Regions from separate parts of the Homo sapiens genome. Here regions 1, 2, 3, 4, 6 and 7 are each linked to region 5. The links come from fine-mapping of genetic effects on gene expression. A gene starts in region 5. Each other region holds a variant in brackets. All regions are shown on one strand. Distances are from middle to middle.

Region 1 (4,592 bases), 280 kb after region 5:
CTAGGGAAGATTTAGCTTCTTCTGAGTTCGCAAAAGGAAATGGCTTATTAGTGACAGAGAAAACAAAAGAATTAACCTGCTTGGGAACTTGAAAACTCTGATGTTTCCAAAATATGTGGTTCCCCAGGATAAAAACTCACAGCTAATTTTATTTTCTAAATTGGAAGGGGGGGTGGGTGGGGACTATTTTGAGATGTGAAACTGTCCAATCCTTTCTGCTCTGTGTGCGTTTCCCCATGATGCAGATATGAAGAGACCACAATTCACAGGATGTCCCAATAGGTACTAAAAAAAGATTTACAAAATCACAGCTTGAGAAAGAGCCTCATGTTGGGCTGATTGAAGGAAAAACCCCAGAAACACTGCACAGAGATTCCTGGCATCTAATAGAGTAGAGAAACATCAGTCGATTGTTTTTCTTAATTGAAGGTCACTTTGGGACTTCGATGAAAATTTTTTTTCACCTGTTAGCTGTCTACCTGGCTAAGGACATTTCTAGAGGACAACCTATATTTTTCTTATAGAAGAATATATTCTTAAGTCATCTGGTTTTGTTAATTTCAAATATTAAAACCTAGTTTCTCAAAGATTTAAAAGGATTCAAGTAAAACCTTTAAAAGTAATTAGTAAAATGCTAAGCTATACAAGTATAGCTATGTGGAAACAAAGGAATATCAATCCATAAGTTAATTTTAAATTCAGTTGGCTGAAATATTATATATTCTAAAGTAAATCTAGTTTATATCATTTTCAAACCATATTTTTCCACCAAAATTGTAATTATTTTTTATTTTTTTTCTTTTTAGCCTTGAAACCAATAAGACCGTTTGATTTCTAGTCTTGTATTAATTTGGAGACCTGGGTATATTATTTTCTTTCAACACTCCACTTGCCAATGCCTGTCTTCCTTAAAGCTCTGAGGATTTATTTACTGTGGACCACTTCCAGTTCACATGCCTCACTTTCATGGGACTTAATATATTTCTTCTAATTTTCAAACTCCATCAACTCAATTTAACTTATTTTTCACTAACTCAGAGATAGATTAAGTATTGTGATGGTTAGAAAGAGGCACATAATAGTTACTATTTTCAAAAATACATATGTATTACTAGGGATCAAATTAGAAAAAAAAATACAACCCAAAACAAAAACACAACCAATTTCTTAAACTGTTTTTAAAAATTGCATAATACATAATAATGGAGAAGGCATGCCCAGCAATGGAAGAAATATATGCGTGAGATATGAAAACAGACCAGAAAAAGACTGGAGTTTCAGCAGTCAAGGGAAGAGTGCATGTGTATACGTGTATTTTTCTGTGTGTGTGTAATTTTAAATACAATTATTTAAATTTTGTAAAATAATCGTTCTATAAAATCACTCAATCCCTTTGATTGTTGAGTTTCTATTATGAGTATATGAAGCTAACATAAACAGCACTTAAATTTTCACCAGAGACAACTATCCATGCAAGACTCTCGGGAGCTGCACACTTGGTACCAGGATGTAATTTTTTTTTTTTAAAGAAAAGGAAGGGGAGCCACATTACTCAAGACATATTCAAGTGAGAGTAGATTGCAATTTCTCTAGTTTAAATGGAAAATCCCCATAATGTTAATATTTACTGGCTTTGGAGTTGTTGAGAAACATGATGTAGCTATGATATTAAAGTTATTAAATATTCAGTTGTTAAAAGGAAGGGAGTCCAAAGACAACATGGTGGCAAATTTTGGCATCAGTAGGGGTTAGAATATACTGATGATTCTGAACCTTGAAGGACAAGGGAAACATAAGTGATCATATACTGCAGGCAAAGGAGATGGAGAAAACAAGAATGATAGAGTTCAAGAACAAGAATTGGTAAAGACAATGATAGTGGCAATGATAGAATTATGAAAGTCCGGAAGGCAAAACATTCTATGGAAGAAATTTGTATTGAAGAAGTAAAATTTGATAGAGACCCTAAGATATGTATAGAATATAAATGAATAAATTGACAGAAACAGATGGGATCAAATTATAGCCTGAAAATGTTGTATGTATCATTTAATCTAATACAAAAATTTATATTTTTTCAGGAGCATGTTTATCACCTAAAGCATGGGTACTTCTAATTTAAA[A/G]TAAGTATCTGATACTGCATGTGTGGGTTTCCTTTAGGTTAGTATTAGTTGATTAATATTTGATTTAAACAGTCTTTGTTCAGCTTAAATAAGATGTAAACTATGAAGTCATGTTTGATTTAGTCATTCAGCAGCAAACACTTATGAATTCCTACCAGGTGCCTGACACAAGCTCTAGGGATGGTTCTGAGAAGCTCTGGCATAGAGCAACCAAAGGAAGATGAGTGCCTCATCAGGCAACAGCATTAAGGAAAATTGGTGAATTGCATTGAGTTTATAAAATAAGAAAAAGTAAATAACGGGACTCGTGATCATGCTCTTAAAATTAATGAAAATTATTATTACTTAGGTAGTGGTGAGAACTTACACATTAAAACAGAGACAGATGATATTGGCATACGCAGTATGATGTTTCTCAAAGCCTGCCTGAGATGAAACCCATATTATCAAAATTTACAACTTCTACATGAAAACAATCTGTAGGTTAGATTTTTCTCTCTTTGCAGTGATTCCAAAGTATGAAAATAATAGGTGAAAAATCAAGGTGAACTTTACAATGACAGAGTTAACCCTTGCTAAATAATTTGTAATGCAAATAAATCTTTTTATCAAATTCTATATCAATTTAATGTGTGATAGGAGAAAGCATTTTATGAAGTATATTAAGTAAGTTTGATGTTATAATGTATACCTTCCTATAGCAAAACAAATAAATAAATGCTTATAAGCCAGGTGTTTTTTTTTTCTGCTTTTGCTTTTGCTTTATTTGTTTTGTATCGTGGCCTTAATCAAATTTTGCTTATCATTTTGTGTTTTTTATTTTTTTGATTTCCCCTCTTATGAGAATTCATTATTCTTACGGTTATCCTTGTACATTTTAGTACTTGTTTCATCAACTTCAGTAAAATTTACTCCCTTTATAAAACATAAAAAATTTGTGCTCCCCTTTTCACATTGTCATAAACTACATATAGATTTATTAGTTATATTTTTTGTCAAGTTGACTATATATTTTCTTCTGTCACTCTAATTCTCAGTAAGTTTTAGCTTAAGGAGTGTCCCTCATTTTATATAACAACTTTCTCACTTGAAGATGTTTTTAACTGTTTTGATTATTGATTGGTTGGAATCAAATGTATTACGAGACTCACATTGTCCAAGGCCATCTTTTTGGGTGCCTTTGTGTGTGAACATACACTTGACTACATACAAAGTGCTTGGGTAATGCTTCATTTCTACCAGGACCCTAGACTTTCTCCATCGTTTCTTGCATAAGAATATTGACATAAAGAAGTCTGAAGTCAGCATGTTTTGCTCTAATAAGTGACTTCATATTTCTGCCTTGAGGTCCACAGGACTTTTTTCTTTGTCCATAAAGTCTGGTAATGCTGCAAGATCATATTTTAGGATTTTAATTCTGTGGCATTTTTTCCTAGAACACTTACATCTTATCTACTTGTAAATTCAGGTTTTTCTCTATTTCAGGGGAGTTTTCATCTGTCAGATCTTTGAATATTTTTCTGTTTCATTTTATTTCAATTTTCTTTTTCAATTGTACCAATGATGAGCATCTTACATGTCTTTTGTTGTTTTCTCATATCTATTGGCTTTCATAAATGGATGTACCTCAGTTAATAATTTTTTACTAGTTTGTATTTTGATCGTAGAATTTTCACCACATGCCCATATTTTGTAAGCTAATGTTGTTCAATTTTAAGAGTTTATAATTCTAGTTTTAAAGTCTTTTTTACCAAAATATTCTTTAGAAGAGTGTTTGTTTATATGCTATGACTTCCAAGAGAATGGATTCTTTTCAGCTATACTATTTGCTTTTAATTTCTAATTGTAGGACATCATAGTTAAGAGGTGTGGCTTTGGTGGATCATTGATACTGTCTTTGTGTCTTAAGCTACAGTTAATATTTTAAAATATTCTTCTTTATGATATGTGTAGACAATTGTGTTTACATCATTGTGTTCTTTAAATCCCCATGTTCCTACTTTGTCAATCTGTCAATTTAAGTTTGTCACTTTTTCCATTTATTTGTCAATATATGTTCAAATTTATCCTTGTATTTCTGACCATTTTTGCTTTATATACTTTATTTAATCAGGCATTATTTTATTTTCTCACATAAAATGCATTTTACCAAGATAGACTACTTCTATGGTAGCACTAGGCATCATAATACATGAATTTCATATTCTCAGTGTCTTAGCACAAAGTTTATTTCTTGATCATATCATAGTTCATTGAGTGTGTTCTCTGTAAGGCAATGAACACCATGGTCATTTAGGGACTCAGGTTTCTCCCATCTTATGGTTCCATCTTCTATTAGTTTCTGAGAGTCCTCTCCATTCAGCTAAAGGAAAAGGAAAGGGGATGAAAGTTGTACAGGAGAACATCAAAGGGCCAGGTCTGGAAGTGGTGGATTTACTGTCCGTATTCTGTTAAGCATACATAACTACA
Region 2 (4,592 bases), 440 kb after region 5:
GATCTAGAACTAGAAATACCATTTGACCCAGTGATCCCATTACTGGATATATACCCAAAGAATTATAAATCATGTTACTATAAAGACACATGCACACATATGTTTATTGCAGCACTATTCACAATAGCAAAGACTTGGAACCAAGCCAGATGTCCATCATTAGTAGACTGGATTAAGAAAATGTGGCACATATACACCATGGAATACTATGCAGCCATAAAAAAGGATGAATTCATGTCCTTTGCAGGGACATGGATGAAACTGGAAACTATCATTCTGAGCAAACTATCACAAGGACAGAAAATGAAACACCACATGTTCTCACTCATAGGTGGGAATTGAACAATGAGAACACTTGGTCACAGGGTAGGGAACATCACACACCAGGGCCTGTCATAGGATGGGGGGCAGGGGGAGGGATAGCACTGGGAGAAATACCTAATGTAAATGACAGGTTGATGGGTGCAGTGAGCCAGCATGGCACATGTATACTTATGTAACAAGCCTGCACGTTGTGCACATGTACCCTAGAACTTAAAGTATAATAATTTAAACAAAAAAAAAGCCTAAAATATTGGCCTAAATGAAGACTTCAAATGGGGATTTATTCATTCAAAAATATTTCTTGAAAACCTTTTATGAACCAGGATCTCTTCTGGAAAATCAGGCTCTGGTGGATCATCCATTTTGGTGTCAAGAGATACATAATAAATACACAAGATAATTTCAGATGATATCAGAAATTATAATCAAGATCGTGATGTAATAGAGAAGAACAGATGGAGACGGGTGAGGTGGCCCTTGATTAGATGACCTGAGAAGGTCTCTTTGAGGAGGAGACATTTGAATAGACACTTGACCTGATAGGAAGCAGGGAGGCATGGAGAGATGTGGGGGGAGTGCAAAGCAGGGAAACTGGTTCTGGGGAATGAGGGCTTCTGTGAGATCAGGACACACAGAAGGCCAGAGGGATGGGCAAAGCCAGGCCAGGTAGGCCTTGCCAATCAAGATTAGAAGCTTGGCTTTTATTCTAAGCTCAGTGGAATGTCAGTGGGGTGTAGGGCAGCAGTAAGCAGAAAATTAGCTGAACCTATTTATTTATTTGTTTTTAAATTATTCCACTGGCTAAGAGAAGAATGAATTGTAGGGGGAAAGAGTACATACAGGGGACAAATTAGAAGGTTGTTACAGTAGCACAGTCAAGCTATAATAGTGGTGGCTGATTTGTATGAGGGAATACTTCATATTCTATTTGTCTTATTTTCCATATGCCTTTTAAACCATTTCCTTTAAGCAATAAAGTGTAGAGAGAAGAGTGGCCCAGGAGTTAGAAAGCCTAGGTCAATTTTCATGTCACCTCTTAATAATTGTGTTGTCTTGCCCAAGTCATTTAACCTCCCCAGGTCAATTTTATTATCTTTAAAGCAAGAATATATTTTCTTTTAAGATGAGTCAATCCCATGAGATAATGAACCTGTTACAATGGAAATTGCTACACCATATGGAAGTTATATCTAAATGTGTCCCTTACAACCATCCTAATGAAGTAATCTATTGTAATATAATGAAGTATAACATTTTTTAAAGGAAAGAATATTTTATAAAGAAAGGGCTTATCTCAAGTTCTTCTTGGATTATTTAAATGTCACTCAAATTTTCCCTGGAACCTCCCCCCAAACCACAAGAATCACTCCTCATTTTAAATCCTATGTTTACAACTTCAACTACTCAATTTACAATAACCTCATATTGTGTATAATGTTATATATCACTAGTGAAAATCACATGCTTATATCTTATCTACTCAACACACTAAACATTTCTTAAGGGCAGAGTTCATATCTTTTAAACCTGTCTCTCCTACTTTACCCAGAAGAATATTTTGCAGCTGATAGAAGCACTACACATTTTAATTTATTGATTGATTCCATCCAGAGTTGGACCATTTTTTTATTAAAGAAGGTGAGGAATTTGGCACATGCTGGAGATCAGTCTCAAAGTGAACAATTTTTCACTGTGTACTATTGAACTCAGTTCCAAAAACAATAGCAAGAAATACATAAAATGTTAGCATTAGGTATTGGTGATTTTTATTGTCTTCGTTTTTCAAAATACCTTCCCAATTTCCTGCAATTTACACATTATTTCTTTTGAAAACAAATATTGAAGAAAAGAGAAGATATGTCTTGTTTCAAACAGGTCAATCCTTTTTTTTAACAGAATAGAATTTACAGAACATACCAACAGAACCAAGAGAATGTCAGTACTTGAGTTCTCTAAAGCAGGGGTTTCCAGCCCCCCAGCCAGGGGCCAGTACCAGTCCATGGCTTGTTAGGAACCTGGCAGCA[C/T]AGTAGGAGGTGAGTGGCAGGTGAGAGAGCATTACCCCCTGAGCTCCACCTCTTGTCAGATTAGCAGTGGCATTAATTTCTCATAGGAGTACAAACCCTATTGCAAACTGCACATGGGAGGGATCTAGGTTGCATGCTCCTTATGAGAATCTAATGCCTAATGATCTGTCACTGTCTCCCATAACCCCCAAATGGGACTGTTTATTTGCAGGAAAAAAAGCTTGAGGTTCCCATTGATTCTACATTATGGTGAGCATGTAACAATAATAGAAATAAGGTGTACAATAAATGTAATGTGCTTGAATCATCCTGAAACCATACTCTTCCCCTTACAATCTGTGAAAAAATTGTCTTCCACGAAACTGGTCCCTGGTGCCAAAATGGCTGGGGACCACTGCTCTAAAGCACTTGAAATGCTATTACACTAAATCTTTGTAAGAAAGCTACCCACTTTATAGATGAACTAAAGTCTCTATGAATTTGAATGAGTTGCTAAGAGTTGCATTTCTTCATTCAGCTGAGATTTGGAGAAGGCATTATGTGTTTCCTGGTAATTTAGAGAGAAGGTGACATGAAATCCCAGCCACAGTCTCCTAACATCCATGGGATTCTAAAAAGCCCATGGAATAATTCCCTTTAAATAGCAGCAGGTATTGGTGGCATCTGCATTTCTTGCTGTTTCACCATCTCCTCATCCTTTCTACTTCTCCAGATTGTTTGTCTTTTTGTGGTCTCCTCACTCTCTGGCTACATTTTTCCTGAGCAAGTACCCCACTCCCTCTTCTTGTTAGTCTATTACTTTCATGTCTGGCAGCCATAAGGGGTTCACTCACCATTATCTGCTTAGGATGTTGGAATTCAATATCCCATCAGTCCTGGGGGCTGGAGTATGTATGCGTATTATTATTTGATAGGTCCCAGCAGAACAGTCTTTCAGAGCAAGATGCACATCATCAGTGGTTTTGCTGATGGATGAGCTCACCTCCTTGACACAGATCTCATGATTCTTGGCATAAATCTCAACAGGAATTAGCTGCTTCTTCCACTGTGTTCCCATAGCATGTTGTCCCTGTGTTTCAGTACTGGTTTTAGTCTATTTCATATGCCACTTCTCTCCCTTTCATGACTGTTAGATGCTGGAGACTGAGCTATTTTTCAGTTTCCTCTGGATTCCTCCCTATGCCCATCATGTGCCATCTGCATTGTAGGCTTTCAGCAAAGCTGTGCCTGCCAGATCCTCTTATTTCTGGGTGCCAAAATACTCAGCATTACACTTCTACCTCACAAAGATCTACCTGGCTTAAAATCATCACCCACCTGTGTGTGCCTTTGGAGCCTTCATTTCACCCCTGTCCTCACCCCTGACACCTGTAAGACACTGAGTCTTACTGAGCCCACTTTCTCCATAGTCATACTCTATGCACACAGCCATCTTCCCCATTCCTCTCTCCCTCTCCCTTTCCCTTGCCCTGTTCTCAGCGTTATCATCCCCATCTCTCAAGAGTCCACTCAGACTTTCTAAGGTGATCATTTGTTCATCTGAGCACAGTAGGTCATGCTTCCTGCTACTCCTGGGAATATAAGGTAAGAGACGTCATATAATCAGGTAAATAGTGAGGATTTCCAGTCTCTACATAAGGTATTTTCAACAGTAGTGTTGACTCACCTCAAATCACACCACTTAGACAGCTATAAAGCCAGGCTTACCTGGAATTTTCTTTTTCTGACTCATGAAACTCTTGTCTCTGTCATATGTGTATTTTTACTTCTGAATTAATATAGCCATCCTGAATCCTAAATCCACGCGTGATTTCTGAGACCACTACTCTCACTGCTAATCTAGTTATGTAGGAATCCCTCCTAAATAAAAATTTTAAAAGATAAAACATACAACCAAAACACAAAGAGCCATATTGAGAACCATGCAAAGCACTTTAAAAGTGGTAAAAGATACTAGCTAGATAAATTCAAATCTCTAGATTACAAAAATGGAAATTCATAAATTAAAAAAATACCTCTAGATACCTTTATATTTGTTTCTTTATTCCATCTTGTGTGTTTATAGAAGAAACAATATTCAGGTACTTTTCATTTTACTGGGATGAGAAATGGAAATGCTAACTACAGTGCAGCTTCATGACTCAAAAGTCTGTAACTGGTATTAATGAACTTTTAAAATGCTAATTTTAATGCTTACTCCAACAGAAAGATGCCTTAAAGCAAAACTTCACATTTCTTATCTGC
Region 3 (4,592 bases), 310 kb after region 5:
ATAGAAATATTATGTTAAAAATAAGATTCATAGAAATCAGTAAACTTGAATCAGGACCCAAAAACTTATTGGCAAAAATAATTAAAACTGGGTGTTTTCTTTCAATTTTGATTTCACTATTAAAATAATAATTTAATCTTTAACACTAGCTCTAATTTTAGAAAATGATTCTTTTCTGTATCTTGGTGAGTATGTATAGTTGTAAGCCTTTTTTTTTAGGGCCAGTATGTTTTTTGCAATGTAGGACACAGTTAATATCCATCTATTACTTTGAATTAAGTTCATTCAATATGTATGTATTCATTTTCATTTGAAAGGCATAATGATTGACCCACCCACACAATATCAAATTAGACCATGCATTTGAAATAGTGATTGACATGTTTTATATTTGATGCTTTGTAAAATATATTTTTTCAAGTAGGAAATACCCTGTGTGAAACCCCTCTGATCTCAGTCCTAGATTTGAACACCCAAACTTAGGTTTCTTAAAACTTGCATTCGCTTTTATGTCACCCTTTGGAGATTAAATAATTATATAGAATCAGAGACTCAACAGTATCCTCTTCCTTATTAGTAGTCTAAGCACAAACTTTATTGTCGGTTTTCTGCCTTTGGCTTCCTGTGCCCTTGATGTTCCCATGAGTTTTGCCGCCAAGATTGTAGACAGATAAAGCCAGAATTACTTTTTTAAAAGGCATGTGAACATCATTAGCAGCTAACAGGTGGTGATTTCGTTGTCCAGTTTGTCTATATAACATGGGAAAAATATGTTCTCTCAATGAGTGAATTCAGAAAGTTATGTTTACATATACTTTTCTTTTAAAAAATATGATTCTAACCTGCCAACACTATTAAGAACGAATCAGATATTTTAAGATATCAGTTGAGTCTAACAGACAAGAAGCCAGAAAATTTAATGCAAGGGCCAAATCACTGTGGGAAACTCAGGACACCAGCCTGGGATGAGAGTAGGAGAGCAGCTCTCCAGGGAGGGCTGTTATGGAAAGTGGAGAGTCAATCAAAGAAGATGTGAACATATTTCTCTGAGGAAAGAGAATTGTCTTCCACTGACAGCAAAGAGGGGGAAGGCCCAAATATAATAAATCTTGCATCAGATAACCTTGGCGAGGTTTCTTAACTTTTCTGAGCTTTACTTTCCACATCTATAAAAATGGGTCTAATACTGTCCTTAAAGGATCGTGTGAGAATTTGAAATTAGACATGTAAATACTTAGCTCATAGCAGGCACTCAGTAAGTAGGAGCTCTTATTATTATCCTCCATGTCCCCAAGCAGATAGCACTGAGACAGGGCTTGAGCCTGGTGGTGGTTGATGAAAGACTGGAGCAGGGCATATAAGCTTGCCATCCTACTCCCTGAGTGTATGAAAGGTAGAAAAAGGGTACCAGAATTGGATATGGGAGTCATAGCTGCAAAAAATCTAAGTACGAGCAGCTGGTCTTTCCCCTGGCAACTCCCATGTAAAAGGGGCAGGTAGGGCATTCTTGGGAGCAGCACACCAGGAAACAGTAGAAAGGAGCCAAGAAACACTCTTGATTCTCCTAAACCCAGAAAAGCATGCCATTCAGAAATTCAAGTTGATGGGAAGGATTCAGCATTAGCCATCTCACTATTCCTTTACACAAAGTTCTAGTTTATTCATTCATACACACATTAATTCTTTTTTATGAAGAAATACAACTAAAGGTATACAACTAAAATTCTTGATTTCACTCATCTGTGCTTTCAATTTTTAAAAAATAACTTTTGTATGTAGGTTATGCTTTAGTAGTAATATATCTCATACCTATCAATTGCTAAACTGTAAAATCCATGAGTGTGGAGACCTTGGATAACTTGAAAATAAAACTGACACTTTAGTATTGGAAATAAGCACCCTGAAATGAACATGAGTTAGAAGACTAAAGTCAAAAGGTAAGAGAGCTAAAAGGAAATGGGTTTTCCTTTAGCTGTCTCTTGATTAAGTTATCATAAAAAACAAATGTGTTCTGGGTGAAATCCTAAATGCATATGTGGATTTCCCAAATCTACGTTCTCTTAATGACATGTGCAATAAGGGTATATGTAATATGTTTCTAATAATTAGGGTATATGTATTTAAATGTGCATTTCCCAGTTCCATATCCCCTTAATGATGTGTGCAATAAGACAACAGAAAGAAAAAACTTGAATTGAGAGAGTTACACAATAAAAATTAAAATGCTACGGACTTTTAACTTGTCTTTGTTTAAAAAATTTGCCTGCAAAGTATCATGACCATGCCAAGTGATGAAAACAAGTTTGATAGAGAAAACATTAATTTTTTGTACTAATCTAAATAATTATAATACTGGTCTTCTACAACTATAAGTAGGCTATGTTCTCAAAATCCAATTGTAAATTGGTTGCTTAGACCTGGTATGTTTTCACAAGGAAACCATGTACCAAGCCACAAAAGCACACTTGAACTTTCTGCAGTCACTTACAATGTTGTTTCTAGGGAACAACTCATTCTGAATTTGCTGCACCTCTGGCCCTGAGAGCTAAGACTTCCCAGTAGCATTGCTTTCGATCTAGTTTCCGGTCTAGATCCCCACTTCTGTACCGTCTCCACCAAAGCGATTAGGAGACTCAGAAT[G/A]GCTTTTGCTTTTGCTAGGATTCTGGTGAGCCCTGAAAGTCCCCAGTAGTGGCAGGGAGGGAATTTAAAGCCTCCGAGCCGGAAGAAATAATAGAAAAAGGAGAGAATTGAGGACTGGGTAGGCAGCTTTTGTAGCATTAATGGGAAGTGAGTCCTTAGCAAGACAGATGTTCTTTGTAAAAAGTATGTGTAATGACAGATTAAGTCTGGAATTGTCCCAAATATAAACATTTGATGAATCTAGGTGGTGCATAGGCAAGTGATCATGATCCTATTGTTTCATTTTTTTTTGTATGTTTGAAAAGTTCTCCAGTTAAAAATTGAAGTAAACGCACATACCCACACAAAAGTAGGTATGTCCATGTGCCTAATTCAATAAAAGAATATACATATTTTCTGATTATGACCTGAACCTTTCAAAGAAAGATCAAATTTTCTGAATATAAGTTACATTAAGACCTCTTTACATGAAACATTGATAACTCATTGTTTTCCTATTTTCCTCCAAAACCAATATATTTTTTTCCTGTGACCATTGAGACCTTTCTGGGAACTATGTAATTAAGAAAACTTTTAAGATATTTATTATTATCCAAAATTAAAAAGTCACACGAGTTTCTTGGATAAATATGTAATTATCAATTGTTAAAACACATACTGTGAAGCCTGTTCTGGAGGCTCATATAAATACATATTTTAAAGTTTTTTCTTATTAAGAATTTTGTGTAAAACAGTCTAATCCTGCCAATGTATGAAAATAATAAGATGAACAAACCATCTGCCAAGGAAATGAAAACAGTATTAAAATTGCACAGATAAACCATATCTAGTTCTGAAGAAATGGAAGAGCTCTTTCCTGGAAAAACAAAAAAGTCGTGACATTTTTGTAGAATATCATGGGTTATTATATTATCAAGAGGACAAAGTTTTCTGATTTGGGTGAGAGGGTCACTCACCCTTTTTTTTTTTTCCCCAAAATAACTAGCGCCACTCTGGTACCAGTTTTATTCAAAACCCTCTTGAGAAAAATAAACTATTGAGCTAAAATGTGGAAACAAATCACTTCATATTACTATACTTATAAGACAGACAATATCTAAAGAATAGTTGAGTGTCACTTGTCTTTTCAGTTGTTTTTCACAGGTTGAGAGTTACTTATTTCAAAATAGTTGGTAAAGAAAAAAATTGAAAAATTATAAATGACATTTATGTTGTTAAAGCTGCAAGATGTAAACATCATGAGAGGAAAAGAGTAAAAATTAGACACATTTGATAGTCAAGCATCCACATTAATTTATCAGAATAGTATTATGCATGAAGGTCCCAGGCTTCACTATGGCCCTGTGTGACTCTAGCCATTGTTCTGACATATGTTCCCAAGCAGCAGTACCTACTTTTTCTGGGACCCGTAGATTGCACTTTCTTCAAAACATTCAGTTTTCAATGAATCATTTGATAAGAGGACTTCATTATGAGCTGAGCAAAGAATGTCCTGATTAATCTCTTCTTTCCCATCTAAGGGGCTGATCTCGCCCTCTGACCTGTGGATGTCCATTGTCGTGTATCTCATAGCATCAGCTACTCTGAAAGTCCACCTAACCCTCTCAGTGCTCAAGCACTAGATCACCCTATCTTCCTTCTGACCCTGGCAATAACACCATGAGCATATTTCCCCTTAGATGAACTGCATTTAATCAATTTCTGATTTCATTAGGTCAAATGGCATCTTGCTTTCAATAATAGGGCAAATCCAGAGGGCTCTTTGCTCTAACTCTCAAGCAATATTTTATTGGCATTAATACACTACTGTGATTGTAAACAAAAGAAAAAAAAAGATCTTTGGTATCCTCAGAAAGTGTCCTTTTGTTTATTCCATGACTTTAAAATGGGCGTATATTAATGTTTTCTTATAAAGTTAGGCATATAATCATCATTCATTGTTGTCACAGCAG
Region 4 (4,592 bases), 86 kb after region 5:
TATTTCAAACTATCATGACAAAGAATAGTAAAGTAATTAATCCTACCTCGTGGAAACTTCACTTGCCAGCATGAGACCCTTTACAATGCAGTGCTTTCAGTGCAGAAAGCATAATTGGAATTTTCTACCCAGGCTAAAAGATGGCCTGAGTCTGTGAGATGACTTAAGCAGGGCATGGTATCCCGTCCCCCCAGAAAAGGAGCAGGAATATCTTGAATATGAACTCCCAGGAGTTTAAGCCTCAAGAGGATTACAATTGTCCTATTAATCTTTCCAGTTCTGTTGTAAGCAGAGAAGCTGGCATTTAGAGGAAAGAAGTGTTATTAATTAAAAATGTGTTGAAAAGAATGAATAAGTGTACATCAAGTATTAAAAAGACAATGAAAGGGCCGGGTGCGGTGGCTCATGCCTGTAATCCCAGCACTTTGGGAGGCCGAGGTGGGTGGATCACCTGAGGTCGAGAGTTCAAGACCAGCCTGACCAACATGGAGAAACACTGTCTCTATTAAAAATACAAAATTAGCTGGTCATGGTGGCACATGCCTGTAATCCCAGCTACTCGGGAGGCTGAGGCAGGAGAATCACTTTAACCCAGGAAGCAGAGATTGCGGTGAGCCGAGATTGCGCCATTGCACTCCAGCCCACGCAACAAAAGCAAAACTCCGTCTCAAAAATAAAATAAAATAAAGAAGATGAAGGAAAATAAACACCTGATCTCAGAAGTGAGAATGTGTGCACAGTGGTAGGACATAGATATACTACGTGTAGAAATCTGCATGTAAACATTTAACAAATATGCATGGTGGTAGCAAGTGTAGTAGGTAATAGAACATAGCAGAAGCGTTATTAGCTTCTTCTAATGACCTGGAAGGCAGCCTGACTTTGGAAAATGATATAAGAGAAGATAACTAACTTGCTATTCAGTCCGTCCTCATTTTTCCTGGGACCTCTGTATGATCATTCCTGAAAAGTCTATTGCATTGATCCAAGACCATGGAACTGGCTCAGCCACTGATGACAATGATGTCACATTTATTGAGTCTTAACTTGAGAAATCCAGCCCTTGGCATCAATCTCAAGTATTCTGGGAAAAGTCCTGCAGTGTCTGGGGAAATGTTACTTATGTATTCAAAGAAAGAGAATTCTATGATGTACACCTTAAACCTGTTTATGTTGATTTCTCCCTATAAGAGTATTAGCTTTTTCCTTTCACATTTCCTATCTCTTTTAGAAAAATTTTCATCAATAATTTATCTTTGTGGGTAGCAAATGTCTACCGAGGGATCTTTTGTGAATTTTTGGAAAAAACAATTGGGGCTATATTTTTAGCAGAGAACGCATGCATCAATTTTTATGATGGGTTGATAGGTTTTTGTAGTTTTTTTGGTAGATAAATCCAGGTTTTGGGTAACTGTTAATCAGAAGAAAACTTAAATAAAACAATAAATTTTTTCTACGGTTACACAACAAAATTTCTCAGTATACATTCCTAAAGAAAGGAACCTCCTTTGTGGTGGTAATTGCTATTGAAAACATCTTTCTTCCAAACATTTGTGGATACCAGTGATACACAGAGTTAAACACTAAATTTATTATATGGGTTTTACGAGGTAGAAAAATAAAATTCCTGGCACCAAGAAAAAGGGACAGTATACATAGAATAAAATGTGGAAAAAGCAAATGAATAGATGTATCCAAATACAAAACAAAAAGGCACCAGTGAATACCATGGTTCTCAAAATTATCCAAGAAATCTTCCTTAGATGCTGTAGAGTTGTGGAGAACATGGTGAAGTAAAAGAAACTTTCTGGATATGGAGATAAGTAAAAAACACTTTGCTATCATTTTCATAAGTCATCATTATTATTATCTCTATCATTATTTATTTAGTCAAAAATGTATTCATCAAATGCATTTTAAAACTAAGTCCCGTGCTATGTATTAGGAATAAAACAAGGCAGAAAAACTCTCACCTATATCAGAGCAGACATTTAACCAGTGAGATTTTAGTTATTTGGAACAACTCCTTTACCTCTAAATATCTCTTCCTTTCACTTGTAGTATTGAAGATAAATTTCTTGGCTTGCCCAGTTTACTATAAATATTTAAATAAACATTTAAATAGCCATTCATTTACTTA[T/A]TTGTTCAAACAGTTTTATTATTTTGACTATTGGCACTACCAAAATATTCCAGAAGCTAGGAATCCAGGTGTGAAAGGTACAGTTTTTTGCCTTTGATGGACTCATAGCACATTATTTGCCTGCAGGCACAGATAAATAAAATGACATTTACAACATGATCTGATATGTGCTGTCACAGTGACAATGGCAAACTGAAAATGGAGATTCAGGATGGTGCACCTAAAAGAGATGGCAGAGAAATCATGGAAAGACCCTCTAATAAAAAGACGTGCACATTAAAATTTGGTTTTCTTCTTATTTTTTGAGATGGGGTTCTTGCTATTCTGCCCAGGCTGGTGTCAAACTCCTAGGACCAACAGATTCTCCCACCCCAACCTCCCACACAGCTGTGATTATAGACACTTGCCACCTCACTGGGTTTTACTAATTTAATTTTGAAGTAGATTAAATATACTTAAGACTTTTGTGAGATGAAGACATGGTCATGGTGGACTATTTCAGCTAGGGGGATAACATGGGATGGCACTGAGGGAGTGTGGTCCTCTGATACTAGGCAGCTCAGGGAGAAGGGTGTGGGCAATTCACTAAGAGTGAAAGATGAAGGCTAACGACTTGGGATGGGGCATGTGAGGCAGACACAGGAGGGTAGAAATAGGATGCTAAGAAATTAAAACACCTAGTACAGACTTTGCAGGGAGTCAACCCATCACAATTTGCATTGTGCATTTATTTTGCCAAAACCTCCGCAAACACTTCTGCGGAGTTATAATGACTTGTTGAATTTCCTTTAAGAAACTTGCAGCTCTATTAGAAATGAAAGCCAATACAGTATATGCAAATAGGAAAAGGAAGCAATCCTACATCATGGAAGAAGATAATGAGATACTGCTACTACAGGGTATCTTGGCAATTGACCAAAATATATGAAATGTTGCTATTTTAAATGCCCTTCCATGATTCAACTAGCTCAGTTACCTGGTCCCATTGAAGTCTTCCTTTATCCCGGCTTCGGAAGGTACATGGGGAGGCTTGAAAAGAAGAACTTTTCTAAGGATACTTGGTAAAATAAAGGAAGGCATTCAATTTGTCTTTCTTTTACCATTTGCAATCAATTTTTTAAACAAGTGACTTCAACGCCCAGAAAGAAAAGTCAATAAAGGTGTATCACTATCTAACAAATCATTCACATTCCTCTTCATAGTCTGTCTTTTAGATATTTAACAGCTTGTAATGACTATGATTTTGCAGGCACTTCCCATAAGCTATATATGCATTATTAATAAAGTTCTATGACTGAAAACTTCCGTCACTGCAATGACTCTTGAAAAGCATAGGTTTATTCAAATCAACAATGCATAGTAGTTTGTCACGGTTTTAACATATGCATTCTTCTTGCAGATGGTTGAAAAAGAAGGTTATCTGCAAAAAGCTAAAATTGCAGATGGAGGAAAGAAACTAAGGTAATAAAATTCTTTAATTCACTTTTATATAACTATGCTGGTTCTTCATATGCTAAACTTGTGCCACTGTTATTGTTTGGGATGCAAGTCCCTATGGTACCAGACTAGAACAGTCTCCTCTGCTACTGCTATGATCAACATTATTTTTAATGGAACTACAGTTTTTAAAGAAAGGCACTACATTCTATATTGTCGAACAGAACACATAAATGAGATGCTTTTTGTCCTCCTTGGACTTGAACTCATAAAACACTGAAAATAAATAAGACAATGGATTGTGATTTCTGTGATTGAAAGATTAGAGAATGAATGCATTCATCTGCAATACAGAAAAGTCTCTATACAATACCTTGTGAGAATAATTTCTTGAAGGATGGAAGATTTGAACCACTTTTGTAGCTCAAAATAGAAATTGATAAAATAAAAGTAACATCATATTCAGAGGTGAGAGAAATTTGAAAAGGGAATAAGAACCTTCAGAGAACAATAACAACAAAAATCTTGAAGAAAAAAAGTAAGGTTGATAGGACGGTAAAGAAAGATGATAATTGTGTGGTATATACCGTATGTTTAGAAATAATCACCTCCATTTTAGAATTTTTGCTATTTCTCGTATTGGTTCTGTTACATATTTAGCTTTGTGCTGGGTGATATGCAAGTTACCAAATTTGTAGAAAATGCTCAAGTTGAGAGACAAGGCATTTACTCTTAAATGTATTACTAACAATTAAAATTAATAGGATAAATGTACTAATTAGCTACACAATGGGACACATGTTAGTTGTATAATACAATTCATTACTAGAATGACACTCTGGGTCAACACCAGAGAATAAAGTCTGCTTTTGTTTGATGGTTATAATGAATTAATATATTTATTTAAACAAAGTAAAATTTGGAGGGGGGTGGAGAAATCATCCACAATTTCACTACTTAAAATAGCTATTTCAGTTGTAAATAACAAGCTCTATTTTCTCTCCATATTGTGTCT
Region 5 (4,592 bases):
TCACCCTTAAGCAGGTATTTACATTTATTTATTACCATAAGGGTATATTGTTATTTTATATTTTTCCTAGTCAGATGCCTGATGTTAGTATCTATTTAAAAGGAAAGGCATGGCCGGGAGTGGTGGCTCACGCCTGTAATCCCAGCACTTTGGGAGGCCGAGGCGGGCGGCTCATGAGGTCAAGAGATAGAGACCATCCTGGCCAACATGGTGAAACCTCGTCTCTACTAAAAATACATAAATTAGCTGGGCATGGTGGTGCATGCCTGTAATCTCAGCAATTCGGGAAGCTGAGGCAGGAGAATCCCTTGAACCCGGGAGGCAGAGTTTGCAGTGAGCTGAGATCGCGCCACTGCACTCCAGTCTGGCAACAGAGCGAGACTCCGTAAAAACAAGCAAACAAAAACAAGGAAAGGCCTAATTTATTTTCCTTGTCCTAGACTTCTGAGTCTAACTCAGATTTACAAAGGCTTAAATCAAGCAGAATGTACTGAAGTTCTCTGATGCTTCTTAGGAGTTATCAACATTTCCCAGCTCATGCTAATTTATATATCTACAATTCCTTATGATATACAAAATATATACATCTATTTACTTATCGTGTTCCCCAAGATGGATTTTTTTATGCGGATGTTTCATTACATGGATAAATGAACTAAATTTCAGAGAACTTAAGTAACTTGGCCAAGGTTAAGTGAATAGCAGTGTCAGAATTAAGCCCGGAATTCTGCTTTCCTCACTTTTAATATTATGAACTTTCCATTTTCTCTTCGGTGTTAAGGAGAAGCATTCAGTACAAATCTTCAGGACTCTAAACACTTAAAAAGGTCCTTCCTGAAATGAGAACTGACAGTGAATTCTAGGGTCAATCTGAAATGTGATTTTTAGAAAAAGATCCCAGAGAAATTCAGTTAACTGATAGGGACATGCCATCCCTAACTTGGGCCATATCCACCAAATCTATTTTTAAAGATTGACTTTTAGTATGCCAAACATTCTATACCACTGAGCTCTATTACACAGATTTCTAGTCTAATTGGTTTGTATGACAAGAGATTGTGATTTAACTCTCTCATATATTTGGAAGGAAAGCTTTTCCTCTCTTCCTTTTATGATTAAGCTGCAAATCTCACAAAACCAGCCAAGCCTGAAAATCCAGGAGCTTATTCTTGAACTCCATGGCTCAATAAAGATGCACATCCTAGAGTTATTTCTGAGACCCCTTACAAATATGTCTTGGGTTTGTTGAAGTTTGACACAAGAGGGCATTCAGCAGCATGCCAAAATGATATTGTTTGGATCCTTTATTATAATATATATTTTTTTTCTTTTTAAGTCAGACCACACAAAGAATCACTCAGCTAGAGCAAAAGCTCTTCAGCAGGTTTCAGAACTGCTTAGGAAATTGCCAGAGTGGACACATCCGTATGAGAGCCACAGTCACAGCAAATGCCACAGGGTGTGTTCGACGAGCATGATGAACACCTGCCTTTTCCCCAGATGCTCAGATGGCGGCGTGGCTCTGGGCTGTGTTTTCTGAAGTTCTAATGCAACCCTCCCAAGGCCTGATGAACCTGTTAACTGGATCAGGTTTTGGTGGGTCCTTTCATGAATGAGGCAGAGGCACCAGCTCTGTGAATTGGAGGTGGCTTCCTTGCTTCCAAAGTCAATATGCAGAGTGTCCTGATAGCATGGGAGCATCTCAAGCGTAGCCAGCAGAGTAGACGCTTCATTTTTCAGCCCTTGCTAGAAGGCAGAGAAAGAGGAAGTTTCTTCAGTGCTTAGCAGTCTGCTCCTCCCACTGATGAATTTTTAATCACACATTTTCCTCCCTTAAGTTAAAATTGATAAAATCTCTATACATGTGTCTTGTTTGACAATTGATAATAACATTGAAAAATAACAATATTGTTGACTATACAAGGCAATTTCTTCAAATTGAGTAATGATGTGATGTGTGTGGTTAACTGTCTCTACCCAGGAAGTGGTTTTATTTAAAAGTTTTGTGCTCACCCCACCCCCCGCCTTTTTCTTCCCCCAGTACTGAAATTAAGCAGCATCCAACACAGGCCTACTCTTACGACATGTGACTTTACTGTTTTCCGTTTTTGTTGAAAGAGTCATTAACAGTTAGGAGTTGATGGCAGTTTCAATAACAGGTCATTGCCGAGAAAAGGTAAGTTTTAACTTTATATTGTACATGAAATTTAAACTTGAACATGTTCGGCAGAGTTTCCTACATTTTGGTGTGAACATATAAACATTTCTACAAAATATGACGCTTTTACCTGTGATTAAAACATTGGCTGGTTTCCTTTGATGTAGAAAAGAATGTTCTTTTCATATTTGCAGCTGTCAAATTCCAATGTCTTTTACTAAAATGTTATAATAATAAGATGATTTGCTAAGATTTTGTACTAAAATGTTAAAGACAGAATAAGTTATAAAGTTTTAGTTTGAAGTGCATTTAAAAATAACTACTAGAAATAATGTGAGACTTTGCACCTTTAACCAACTGTTTTATAAAAATATGTATTGTTCAACATCCAGATAAGGAAAGAGAAAAGGGTATAACAATGAGAAATAGCTTGAATTTCAGTGTGAAAGATACTCACTTTAAAGCATTGTATTAATGTTAGCACTAAAAACCCTTAAAAAGGTTACTATGTAGCTAATTAAAAAGCAAGGAGCTTTTAAAATGTAAAGGAATACTGTCTATCATGACACTTGAAATTTTTTTTCTAAATTTCATTTAAGATATAGGGTGAAATGAGTGTAAGTTTCTAATTCATAAGCAAACTTTTATATTTAAAAAAGAAGTCACAGCTGATTTCATTGAAGGTTACTCTGAGAGGAGAGGCAAATTAGAGGTATACTTTTGTTATTTATGTAATTATATAATTTTCCTTCTTTGAAATATTCCAAAATAATAAACCTTAGAAATGAAAAGGATTTGTTAGTCCTAAACTGACATGTAATTTTCTTTTATATTGACTTCTTGCTTTTACAGAATGTCTTTGTGTGCTGTAACATATGTGCAGAAAACATCAAAATATTGCTAATCTCAGAGACAAATACCTAAAATAAATCTGACTGTAGATTTTTGAAAGAATTTTAATAACAGCCCAAGATATGATCCATTCTTCCCTAATATTATTTTTATTGTGCTGCTGGATGGGAGAAGTGATGGCCCCCACAACACCTATTTTTTGTGTTATTAAAAAATGGTTACAGGGTTGATAAGTGGCAACAATTTTCTTTTCTTTTATTGTCTTCTATTGAAAGACACACATAAATGTTTTTTGACATGGTCAATTTAGTAGGAAATTATTAGGCATAGTAGTACACTCCATTTTAAGACCTCTTCAATTGTCAATACTGAAGCTAGCTACTTGTTGACTATTAAAATGATCACAGAAAAATAGAGATTAGGACTTGGTGTTCAATACATTTTTTATTGTTAGCATGTAAGAAGACCCTGGTAATATATATTTGCTTTGATATTGTGATTAGATTTTCAATTTGTTGCATTTCCTCACAATGGAAAGCATTATTTAAATCTGTCTTCAATATCGTGGTTCTGAACCTCTGCATCTATAGAAGCTGTATAATTCTGATAATTTTGGTTGATATGTTATTACTTTCTTTCATTTTATTATAAAAGAATATCAAATGAATAAACACATGCAATACTTACACCTTAGCAAGAATGAATATGCAGATAAACATCTGGCATTGAGGAAAAGTCCATGAAAATTTTTTAAATTGTTTAATGCTTTTAAAAAAGAAATTCACTGTAAAAATGAGTGTTTCTTGCAGAAACTGTTAAATTAAAATACACATATTTTATGGAATATGTGTAAAATTAAGAATGAATTGAAGAGAGCTTGATATGAATTTAGAAAGATCAATGAGTAAAGATGATAGGTAAATTAAAATACCTTCAGAATTGTTTGTAAAGAGCAGTAAGGTACAAACCAAATTTTAAGACAGTTAATTGCAAATAAGTTACTATAGAATTCTATTACTTTATATGTTTTAAGTGGATGAGTCAGAAACAAGTTTTGATGAAATGAAAATAATACGGAAGATTTTATTTGGAAAGTCATATTAAAGCTAATTTGCTCAAAGAATGTCGTGCTTTTCCACTTAGGGCCAGCATTCAGTAAGATTCAGAAAGGAGAAACTCTTTCCTTGATATTCCTCCTGTTGCTCCTTTTTATTATTCTCTTCTGGAGCGGCCTGCTCTGCTCCTAATTTAGAGTCCCATAGACTTGGTACCTAGAAAGATAGACCCTTCCATTCACTGGCTCCTTCCATTCAACTGAACTTTTAAAATGTACTCATCCCATTTTCCAGCACTTAGGGAATCTAATAAAAATAATCCACGCTTATAGGAGAAGGCTACAGAGCTTTGACTTCCTAGCCAGGCCTCCCTTTCTCCCCCCAGTGGAATTTTAATATGTTTCCTCAGCAGACAGGGCCCAAAGGATTAGCTAAATGTTGGATCTCAAGTGAGGAGACTGATGCCATGGTAAATGGTTGGGGGAAGACTTTAGAGGGAGAGTGTTTTGTTAACCATTGGTCCTGCC
Region 6 (4,592 bases), 120 kb before region 5:
GGATGCCCTCTCTCACCACTCCTATTCAACTTAGTGTTGGAAGTTCTGGCCAGGGCAGTTAGGCAAGAGAAGGAAATAAAGGGTACCCAATTAGGAAAAGAGGAAGTCAAATTGTCCCTGTTTGCAGATGACATGATTCTATATCTAGAAAACCCCATTGTCTCAGCCCAAAATCTCCTTAAGCTGATAAGCAACTTCAGCAAAGTCTCAGGATACAAAATCAATGTACAAAAATCACAAGCATTCTTATACACCAACAACAGACAAACAGAGAGCCAAATCATGAGTGAACTCCCATTCACAATTGCTTCAAAGAGAATAAAATACCTAGGAATCCAACTTACAAGGGATGTGAAGGACCTCTTCAAGGAGAACTACAAACCACTGCTCAAGGAAATAAAAGAGGATACAAACAAATGGAAGAACATTCCATGCTCATGGGTAGGAAGAATCAATATCGTGAAAATGGCCATACTGCCCAAGGTAATTTACAGATTCAATGCCATCCCCATCAAGCTACTAATGACTTTCTTCACAGAATTGGAAAAAACTACTTTAAAGTTCATATGGAACCAAAAAAGAGCCTGCATCACCAAGTCAATCCTAAGCCAAAAGAACAAAGCTGGAGGCATCACACTACCTGACTTCAAACTATACTACAAGCCTACAGTAACCAAAACAGCATGGTACTGGTACCAAAACAGAGATATAGATCAATGGAACAGAACAGAGCCCTCATAAATAATGCCGCATACCTACAACTATCTGATCTTTGACAAACCTGAGAAAAACAAGCAATGGGGAAAGGATTCCCTATTTAATAAATGGTGCTGGGAAAACTGGCTAGCCATATGTAGGAAGCTGAAACTGGATCCCTTCCTTACACCTTATACAAAAATCAATTCAAGATGGATTAAAGATTTAAACGTTAGACCTAAAACCATAAAAACCCTAGAAGAAAACCTAGGCATGGCCATTCAGGACATAGGCATGGGCAAGGACTTCATGTGCAAAACACCAAAAGCAATGGCAACCAAAGCCAAAATTGACAAATGGGATCTAATTAAACTAAAGAGCTTCTGCACAGCCAAAGAAACTACCATCAGAGTGAACAGGCAACCTACAAAATGGGAGACAATTTTTGCAACCTACTCATCTGACAAAGGGCTAACATCCAGAATCTACAATGAACTCAAACAAATTTACAAGAAAAAAACAAACAACCCCATCAAAAAGTGGGTGAAGGACATGAACAGACACTTCTCAAAAGAAGACATTTATGCAGCCAAAAAACACATGAAAAAATGCTCATCATCACTGGCCATCAGAGAAATGCAAATCAAAACCACAATGAGATACCATCTCACACCAGTTAGAATGGCGATCATTAAAAAGTCAGGAAACAACAGGTGCTGGAGAGGATGTGGAGAAACAGGAACACTTTTACACTGTTGGTGGGACTGTAAACTAGTTCATCCATTGTGGAAGTCAGTGTGGCGATTCCTCAGGGATCTAGAACTAGAAATACCATTTGACCCAGCCATCCCATTACTGGGTATATACCCAAATGACTATAAATCATGCTGCTATAAAGACACATGCACACGTATGTTTATTGCGGCATTATTCACAATAGCAAAGACTTGGAACCAACCCAAATGTCCAACAATGATAGACTGGATTAAGAAAATGTGGCACATATACACCATGGAATACTATGCAGCCATAAAAAATGATGAGTTCATGTCCTTTGTAGGGACATGGATGAAATTGGAAATCATCATTCTCAGTAAACTATCACAAGAACAAAAAA[C/T]CAAACACCGCATATTCTCACTCATAGGTGGGAATTGAACAATGAGATCACATGGACACAGGAAGGGGAATATCACACTCTGGGGACTGTGGTGGGGTGGGGGGAGTGGGGAGGGATAGCACTGGGAGATATACCTAATGCTAGATGACGAGTTAGTGGGTGCAGCGCACCAGCATGGCACATGTATACATATGTAACTAACCTGCACAATGTGCACATATACCCTAAAACTTAAAGTATAATAAAAAAAAAAAAAAAGAAAATACACTGGTTGTCCCCAAAGCGGAGGGTGTCCCCAAGTTGGAGGTTCTCCAAAATACAAAATGTTTCCTGCGACAAAGGAGAACAGAAGAAAGCAGCTATCTCAGAAGGGGCTCTGGACCAGGCACGATGACTCACGCCTGTAATCCCAGCACTTTGGGAGGCCGAGGCGGGTGGATCACCTGAGGTCAGGAGTTCGAGAGCAGCCTGGCCAGTATGACATAGCTCCATCTCTACTAAAAATACAAAAAGTTAGCTGGGCCTAGTGGTGCATGCCTGTAATCCCAGCTACTCGGGAGGCTGAGGCAGGAGAATGGCTTGAACCCAGGAAATGGAGGTTGCAGTGAGCCAAGATCATGCCACTGCACTCCAGCCTGGATGACATAGCATGACTCCATCTCCAAAAAACAAAAAAAAAAAAAAAGAAAGAAAGAAAAAGGGACTATGGAGTACAAAGGCCCATGTGTCATTTCCCATAATATTTTTCATATTTTTGTTTTATTTTTTACTGTGTATATTTAAGGTCTATAACATGATGTATGGGATACATAGAAGCAGTAAAAGGTCGCTGTAGTGAAGCAGATTAAGATATCCACCTTCATGCAGTTACCCATTTTTTTTCTAGCAAGAACAGGGAAAATCTACTCACTTAGCTTGAATCCCAAATATAATACAATTGTACTACCCATAGTCCTCATGCTGTACATTGGAGTTCTGGACTTGTTCATCCTGCATATCTGCTACTTTGTGTCCTCTGACCTACCTGTCTGCATTTTCTTCCCTCACACCTGTCTTTGGTAACCACTCTTTTGTTCTCTATCTCTGTATATTTGAATTTTTTTTAGATTTCATACATAAGTGAGATCATGCAATTTTTCCATGTCTGGCTTTTTTCTTTCTTTTTTTCTTATTAATTTTTTAGAGACAAAGTCTCACTATGTTGTCCAGGCTGGAGTGTGATGGCTATTCATAGGTGCTATCACAGCACACTGCAGCCTTAAACTCCCAGGCTCAAGTGATCCTCCCACCTCAGCCTCCCACGTAGCTGGGACTACAAGTGTGTACCACCACACCTGGCTCTGGCTTATTTTACTTAGCATAAGGTACTCCAGGCTCATCCATGTTGTGGTAAATGGCAAGACCTTATTATTTTTTAGGGCTAAATAATATTTCTCTCTCTCTCTCCCTGTCTCTCTCTGTTTCTCTGTCTCTTTCTCTGTGTGTGTGTGTGTGTGTGTCCATCATATTTTCTTTTCCACTCATCTGTTGATGGACACTTAGGTTGATCCCAAATCTTCACAATTTTTTGAATATGCTGCAGTGAACAAAGGAGTGCAGATATCTTTACAAGGTGCTGATTTCATTTCCTTTGGGTATATGTCCAGAGAAGGAATTGCTAGGTCTTATGGTAGCTCTATTTTTAATTTCTAGAAATTTGATAGTTTTAAAGAAAAGTTGCATATATGAATGTTATCAGGTCTTGAATTTAAATGAGCAAATAATTTTATTTTCTTTGTTTTTGTCTATCTGAATTTAATTCTATCCTGAACCCACATCTGTTTCTTGAAGGAAATTTGGTCTTGTAACTTCTAGGTAAGCTTAGTGACTTTTGTTGTTTTTCTCAGTAAATTTGGAGTTTAAGTTCTGTTGGTTCAGCATTCTTTTCCTTTCCTCCACAGAATGACATTGCAAAGGTAGATGATATACAGAACACTCAGGCATAGGTAAGGGAGAGGCTTCGGACCCACAGCCATCTCCTGGAGTACATTGAGATGTGCTTGTACCCTTTTGGTCAACTGCTCTCATTACCATTACATTCTCCAAGATGTGTATGAAACTGAAATGGCCTCATGCCTTTTATCCCAACCATCCCAAAGCTCCATTGGAGACTTGGGGTCTGTCAGTCACTTCTATACCTATCCCTGGGGGAGCAGGAATTTCAAAATAGTCTCTTGCGTCTTTAGAGGATATAGTATGAACCTGGGTTTTAAATGGAGGTGCTATCACACACAGGTCCATTCTCCTAACATTCCTACACAAAGATTATGGCACCAATTTGGGGCATGAAGAAATTCTTTACAAACCTTTGGACTGCCCCTTAGGGCTGAGGGAACATGGCTCAGGCCATTTCCATCATCAGATCTTCTCAAACATATGTGGAGTTCCCACTGACCTCTCAACCCTCCCAGCCTCATCCCTTGGATTTTATCTAGTGGTATGGAGTACAACCTGGCTAAGTATTGGGAACCTGAATCAGGTATGAATCTCATCCTTTTCTGAGGCTTCTCCTTCCCCAGCAGGAGCAAATTTGGTTTAATTAATGGGTTAGATCCATTGTTTCTTCAGTTTTCTTTTATATGTGCTGTTTCTGGCATAAATTTTATGCTGGGCTATATGTAACACATGATTTGAGATCAAACATGTCTACTGCAAATCAAAAGTCTTGGCTTTTAGAGAGAATTGTCTCTGCTATAAGTTTCAGAAGTTTGTTTTGGAACTCAAAGCTAAAAATTAGAAT
Region 7 (4,592 bases), 310 kb after region 5:
ACCCACTCTAATCAATTTTTTCTCTAAGTTGCCCGTTATGTGTGAAACTAAGAGTATTGCTCTGTTTCTGTAGGGTCGTATCCTTTTCTCACAAGTCTGGGGAGAAAAAGATTCACTGTAATGAAAAATGGACAGTTACACGCTAAATATTGCCAACTACTTAGCAGTCTGAGAGTCAGGAACCTGAATGTTCATTTGATAAATACTCTCCCAGAGAGGTTCAAATATGTAAATGAACTTTTATTTTAATATACTCCTTTTGTGGGGAAATTGGTTTTTTTATTACTTTCCTATAGATCTCTGATAAGAAAGTAGAAATAGTCAAATGTTATTCATTTCAATGAACTTTTGGAAGTCTGCAATTAGTGTTTTTGGTAAATAAACTGTTTTAGAGCTCTCCATAAAAGGAAATCAAATATAGAGATACTATTAGATTTGAAAAAGACAGACAGGAAAGAGGCAAACGTGCAGAATGAATTCTGACACACCCGGGTGCATTTTTCTGCGGGTTCTGACTTAAGTGTGTACTGTCTGCAGTTCTCTGAACTTCCTGGCTTGTTTCTCCTTAAGTTGGAGTAATTCAGCTCTAGCCCTACTCTGACTTAATCGTTCTATTATTAAAACAATAATGTATTTGTTATGACGTGAAAAACAGTTTATAGAGAGCGGTTCAAAATGCTCCCAGTTCCCAGAAAGACAATTACTGGAATACAAGAAAATATTTCATTTTATTAAACTGTGTTTTTTAAAAAAGGATTTTTACATGTAAGAGATCTATCTTACATAGTTTCTTTACCTGTCTATTTCTTTTTCTTTTTTTTTTTTTTGCAGATCACAACAGTATCAGGAAATGAGTTCCTTCTACAGTCAGATATTGACTTCATCATATTGGATTGGTTCCACGCTATCAAAAATGCAATTGACAGATTGGTATGTATTTGTTTTGGCTGTTACCTTTATTAATTAAAATGTAGTCATTTAAATCTTATTGCTCAGGCATATAACACACACACTCATTTAAATAGATCCTATGGACTGAGAGGGATTAAGTTCTTTTAGTTTAAATAGAATCTACTAAAAACCTTTTCAGCAGACAGGATTTGTAGAACTGTCGTTTAATTTCTCTCTTTCAAAAATATAGTGCATTCTTTCTTTTTTTCTGAAATAACATAGACATTCATTTACTGGAGGCTGTAAAAAGCACACAAGCACTTAATAACTACTGATTTTTTTTTCATTTTCAGTTTATGCAGTCCATACTACATACTCCTGTAAATAAATAACATATTTAAGACTCACTGTTATAATACCAATAAATAAATAATAACCCTTTGTACTGATTTTTATTATTCTTCCAGCTAAGCTAGATTGTTCTTCTTATGAAAATTACATATCTAGAACTTCATGAAATTATCCTAAAACATACATTCAGAGTATGTTTTCTAAGAATGAACTTATTTAAAACCACTCATTCCATGCTGAGTCTCTAGAACAAACATTTAATTTTATGACACTAATATTTGCAAAATTTTGGGAAGAAATATTCTTAATACGGAATACAACACAATAGTAAAAGATTTTCTGTGTGATTTTCTTGATACTTAATTGCAAGCTTTCATTATACCATTTTGGGATTAACACTTTAAAAAGTAAAATAACAAATTTACTTTTTCCTGTTATTAGTATATTCCCCTTAAAGGGGTGTGTGTGTGAATGTGTGTGAGTGCACATACATACATACACACAGTTTGTTGCCATTGAGGATGGACTCTGGAACCAGACTGCTAGAGTTTGAATTCTAGTTCTATCATTTGTTACCTGTGTGGCCTTAGGCAAATTACTTGCCTATTTTGGCCTCATTTTCTTAATGAGGAAAATAAGGATAATAATAATACCACCTACTCTATAGAATTGTTGTAATGATTAATTGAACTAATGCATGAATAGTGCTTAGCATTTAGTAAGTACCATCATATACATATATAAACTATTATTAGAGTATTGAGCTTAGCATAGAGGACCTATCCTCAAATAATTACCTTACTTCAAATTTCCCCATAAACAGCAAAATTGAACACAAAATTCTATGGTGAATCCTTTCTTTCTAGTAAAATTATTCAGTCTAATTATTTGCTGTTTCCAGCCAAAGGATTCAAGTTGTCCATCAAGAAACCTGGAATTATTCAAAATCCAAAGATCCTCTAGCACTGAATTGCTAAGTCACTA[C/T]GACAGTGATATAAAAGAACAGAAACCAGAGCACAGAAAATCTTTAAGTGAGTATTTTCTTTGACTTGCTCATTTTAAGTTTGTCTAAATGCAGTGCTTATGAAATATAAATGCATTGAAATGAGATTTAAGCCAAACTCATCATACTCATGGAAGATTCGTAGCCATTTCCTGGCCAGGGATTTGTGCACTGGAGGGCAGTCTGGGCACTTTGCTCACATCATTGTTGGTAATGCCTTTTGAGAAAATAATTGTTCCAAGGTCATGGTCTCTGCTTACAGCAAACCTCTGAATCTCTGAGTAATAGCCATGGTGTTCAGATCAGTGATTGATTTTGAGAGTGGGAAATGTCAAGCATCTCCAACCCTGGTATCCTGACTATTTTATTTGCATACATTAAAGGGTATGAGTGACCACCAGTGTGGTCTAACTTAAGTCAACAGGCTATGCCACTTTCCACACCTTCAGACCACCAGAAACACTTAGAAACGTGCTTTCCAGAGAGGCTGATAGAAAATATGGGATGTGAATTAGATGTTCTCCAAGGTCACACCTAGTTCTAATATTCTAAGAATTAAATTTAGAGTAAAAAGAATGGTCTCACTACTTACACAGTGATCTTGAGTATCTTTCTTAACCATTCCCCAGACTGCTTCTTCCTCAATGAAAAGGGGTTATTAAAATATGCAACACATATCTCACTGAGTTGGTTTGAGTCTCAACCTCCTGAAAGAAAAGGTAGACATCTGGCTGGGCGAGGTAGCTCACGCCTGTAATCCCAGCACTTTGGGAGGCTGAGGTGGGTGGATCACGAGGTCAGGAGCTCGAGATCATCCTGGTCAACATGGCCAAACTCCATCTCTACTAAAACTACAAAAATAAGCTGGGCATGGTGGCACGTGCCTGTAATCCCAGCTACTCAGGAGGTTGAGGCAGGAGAATTGCTTGAACCAGAGAGTCAGAGGTTGCAGTGAGCTGAAATCATACCACAGCATTCCAGCCTGGTTGGCAACAAAGCAAGACTCTGTCTCAGAAAAGGTAGACATCTTTGGAACCAGAGAAAACCTATTTCCCAAAGTCTTAAAAATTATAGTATTTTGGGGGAGTCTTCTACCTGGCTGACCCCAATCTTGCAAATCATCATTTTTTTCCTGCTATTTCCCTCTGACAAAATATCAGTATACTGACATCCTAAACTTTAGAATTTAAAGAGAACTCAGTAAGTTGAGAAGAGCTGCTAATGGAATATATGTGTACATATATACATATATACATACACATACACACGTATGTATGTATGCTAGATGATTATTTGTACGTGTACATATATGTGTGCATTAAGAAATATATGTATATACACATACATGCACACAAAGACTCATACACATATGATAGGGAAGAGAGAAGCTATTTATATGTGATAACATATTTGCCAAAGTTGAATTACTGAAGTCTACAAATCTAGAAATTGCATGAGAATTTAAGAGTAGAAGCACCCTTTTGAAATTAAGTCTTTATGCAAAATCCCATGCCATAATTTTCAACAACTGCTAGACACATTTACTTAGCCAGTTGTGCTAAGTTGGAGTTTAAGATTATCAGTGTTAATGTCTAGAAAATGCATGGTTTATTTGTGGAGAGTTAATGCCATTTCAAAAGACTTTTCCATAATGGTACAGTTTAGAGGTATTTCATTTAAAGAATGTTTTCCTTTCATGCCTGATCATTGTCTTCTTTTACTTCATATGGTTTGAGACATAAGGTAAGATTTCAGAATTGGGATTCAGTTGGGAGTATATATTTAGTGTTAATCATATAGACATTCTGTAGTACATATAAAAGAATATGTGATGCAATGACTAGTAGGTCTGGAATCTTAGATATAATTGCTGGTTCAGAGACCTTAAGATGTTTCTAAAACCTGAGCTATGGAGAAAATAAAGGTTTGCAAAAATGTATTTGAGAAACATTGAGGATAATGAATTCTCTATTAAGTAACAGTCACTTTAAAAGTATTAAGATGCTGCTGAAAAAAAAATCTTAGATAGAACACTCACTACTTCTCTTTAGAATCTATTTTTAATTGGAAAAGACAATTATTTTTCTACTTTGAGCTTAAACTCAATCCTACTTAAAAACAAGGGAGGCCAGGAGTAGTGGCTCATGCCTGTAATCCCAGCACTTTGGGAGGCCAAGGCGGGTGGATCACCTGAGGTCAGGAGTTCAAGACCATCCTGGCCAACATGGTGAAACCCTGTCTCTACTAAAAATACAAAAATTAGCCGGGCATGGTGGCGAGCACCTGTAATCCCAGCTACTCGGGAGGCTGAGGCACAAGAATTGCTTCAACCCGGGAGGCGGAAGTT

Alleles and levels. Positions count from the first base shown, and alleles are read on the strand shown. Sizes are in standard deviations (SD) of each study's normalised expression. Not every link is listed here.
As copies of C replace T in region 2, the expression in whole blood of the gene that starts at base 2,129 in region 5 goes up (moderate effect, 0.55 SD a copy in GTEx).
With allele G in place of A in region 3, the expression in aorta of the gene that starts at base 2,129 in region 5 is lower (small effect, 0.18 SD a copy in GTEx).

What was found.
Region 1: its variant is fine-mapped to the expression of ARHGAP15 in whole blood (INTERVAL, PIP above 0.99).
Region 2: its variant is fine-mapped to the expression of ARHGAP15 in whole blood (GTEx, PIP above 0.99). The same link has a PIP of 0.9 or more in lymphoblastoid cells.
Region 3: its variant is fine-mapped to the expression of ARHGAP15 in aorta (GTEx, PIP 0.98).
Region 4: its variant is fine-mapped to the expression of ARHGAP15 in whole blood (INTERVAL, PIP 0.94).
Region 6: its variant is fine-mapped to the expression of ARHGAP15 in whole blood (INTERVAL, PIP 0.97).
Region 7: its variant is fine-mapped to the expression of ARHGAP15 in whole blood (INTERVAL, PIP above 0.99).

The regions. Positions count from the first base shown.
Region 1 is chr2:143,402,413-143,407,004 of GRCh38, forward strand. All of the region lies in intron 6 of ARHGAP15 (Rho GTPase activating protein 15), which reads left to right. Among named protein-coding and RNA genes, the nearest start is that of ARHGAP15, 280 kb to the left of the region's middle. The variant A/G (reference allele first, on the strand shown) is at 2,124.
Region 2 is chr2:143,568,617-143,573,208 of GRCh38, forward strand. The region is part of intron 11 of ARHGAP15 (Rho GTPase activating protein 15); the gene reads left to right. Among named protein-coding and RNA genes, the nearest start is that of ARHGAP15-AS1, 210 kb to the right of the region's middle. The variant C/T (reference allele first, on the strand shown) is at 2,349.
Region 3 is chr2:143,439,834-143,444,425 of GRCh38, forward strand. All of the region lies in intron 8 of ARHGAP15 (Rho GTPase activating protein 15), which reads left to right. Among named protein-coding and RNA genes, the nearest start is that of ARHGAP15, 310 kb to the left of the region's middle. The variant G/A (reference allele first, on the strand shown) is at 2,641.
Region 4 is chr2:143,212,845-143,217,436 of GRCh38, forward strand. ARHGAP15 (Rho GTPase activating protein 15) reads left to right here. Exons shown (of 14, transcript NM_018460.4): 4 at 3,540-3,601. Among named protein-coding and RNA genes, the nearest start is that of ARHGAP15, 86 kb to the left of the region's middle. The variant T/A (reference allele first, on the strand shown) is at 2,141.
Region 5 is chr2:143,127,291-143,131,882 of GRCh38, forward strand. ARHGAP15 (Rho GTPase activating protein 15) reads left to right here and starts at 2,129. Exons shown (of 14, transcript NM_018460.4): 1 at 2,129-2,176.
Region 6 is chr2:143,010,008-143,014,599 of GRCh38, forward strand. The region is part of intron 10 of KYNU (kynureninase); the gene reads left to right. Among named protein-coding and RNA genes, the nearest start is that of ARHGAP15, 120 kb to the right of the region's middle. The variant C/T (reference allele first, on the strand shown) is at 1,814.
Region 7 is chr2:143,434,770-143,439,361 of GRCh38, forward strand. ARHGAP15 (Rho GTPase activating protein 15) reads left to right here. Exons shown (of 14, transcript NM_018460.4): 7 at 832-930; 8 at 2,144-2,273. Among named protein-coding and RNA genes, the nearest start is that of ARHGAP15, 310 kb to the left of the region's middle. The variant C/T (reference allele first, on the strand shown) is at 2,227.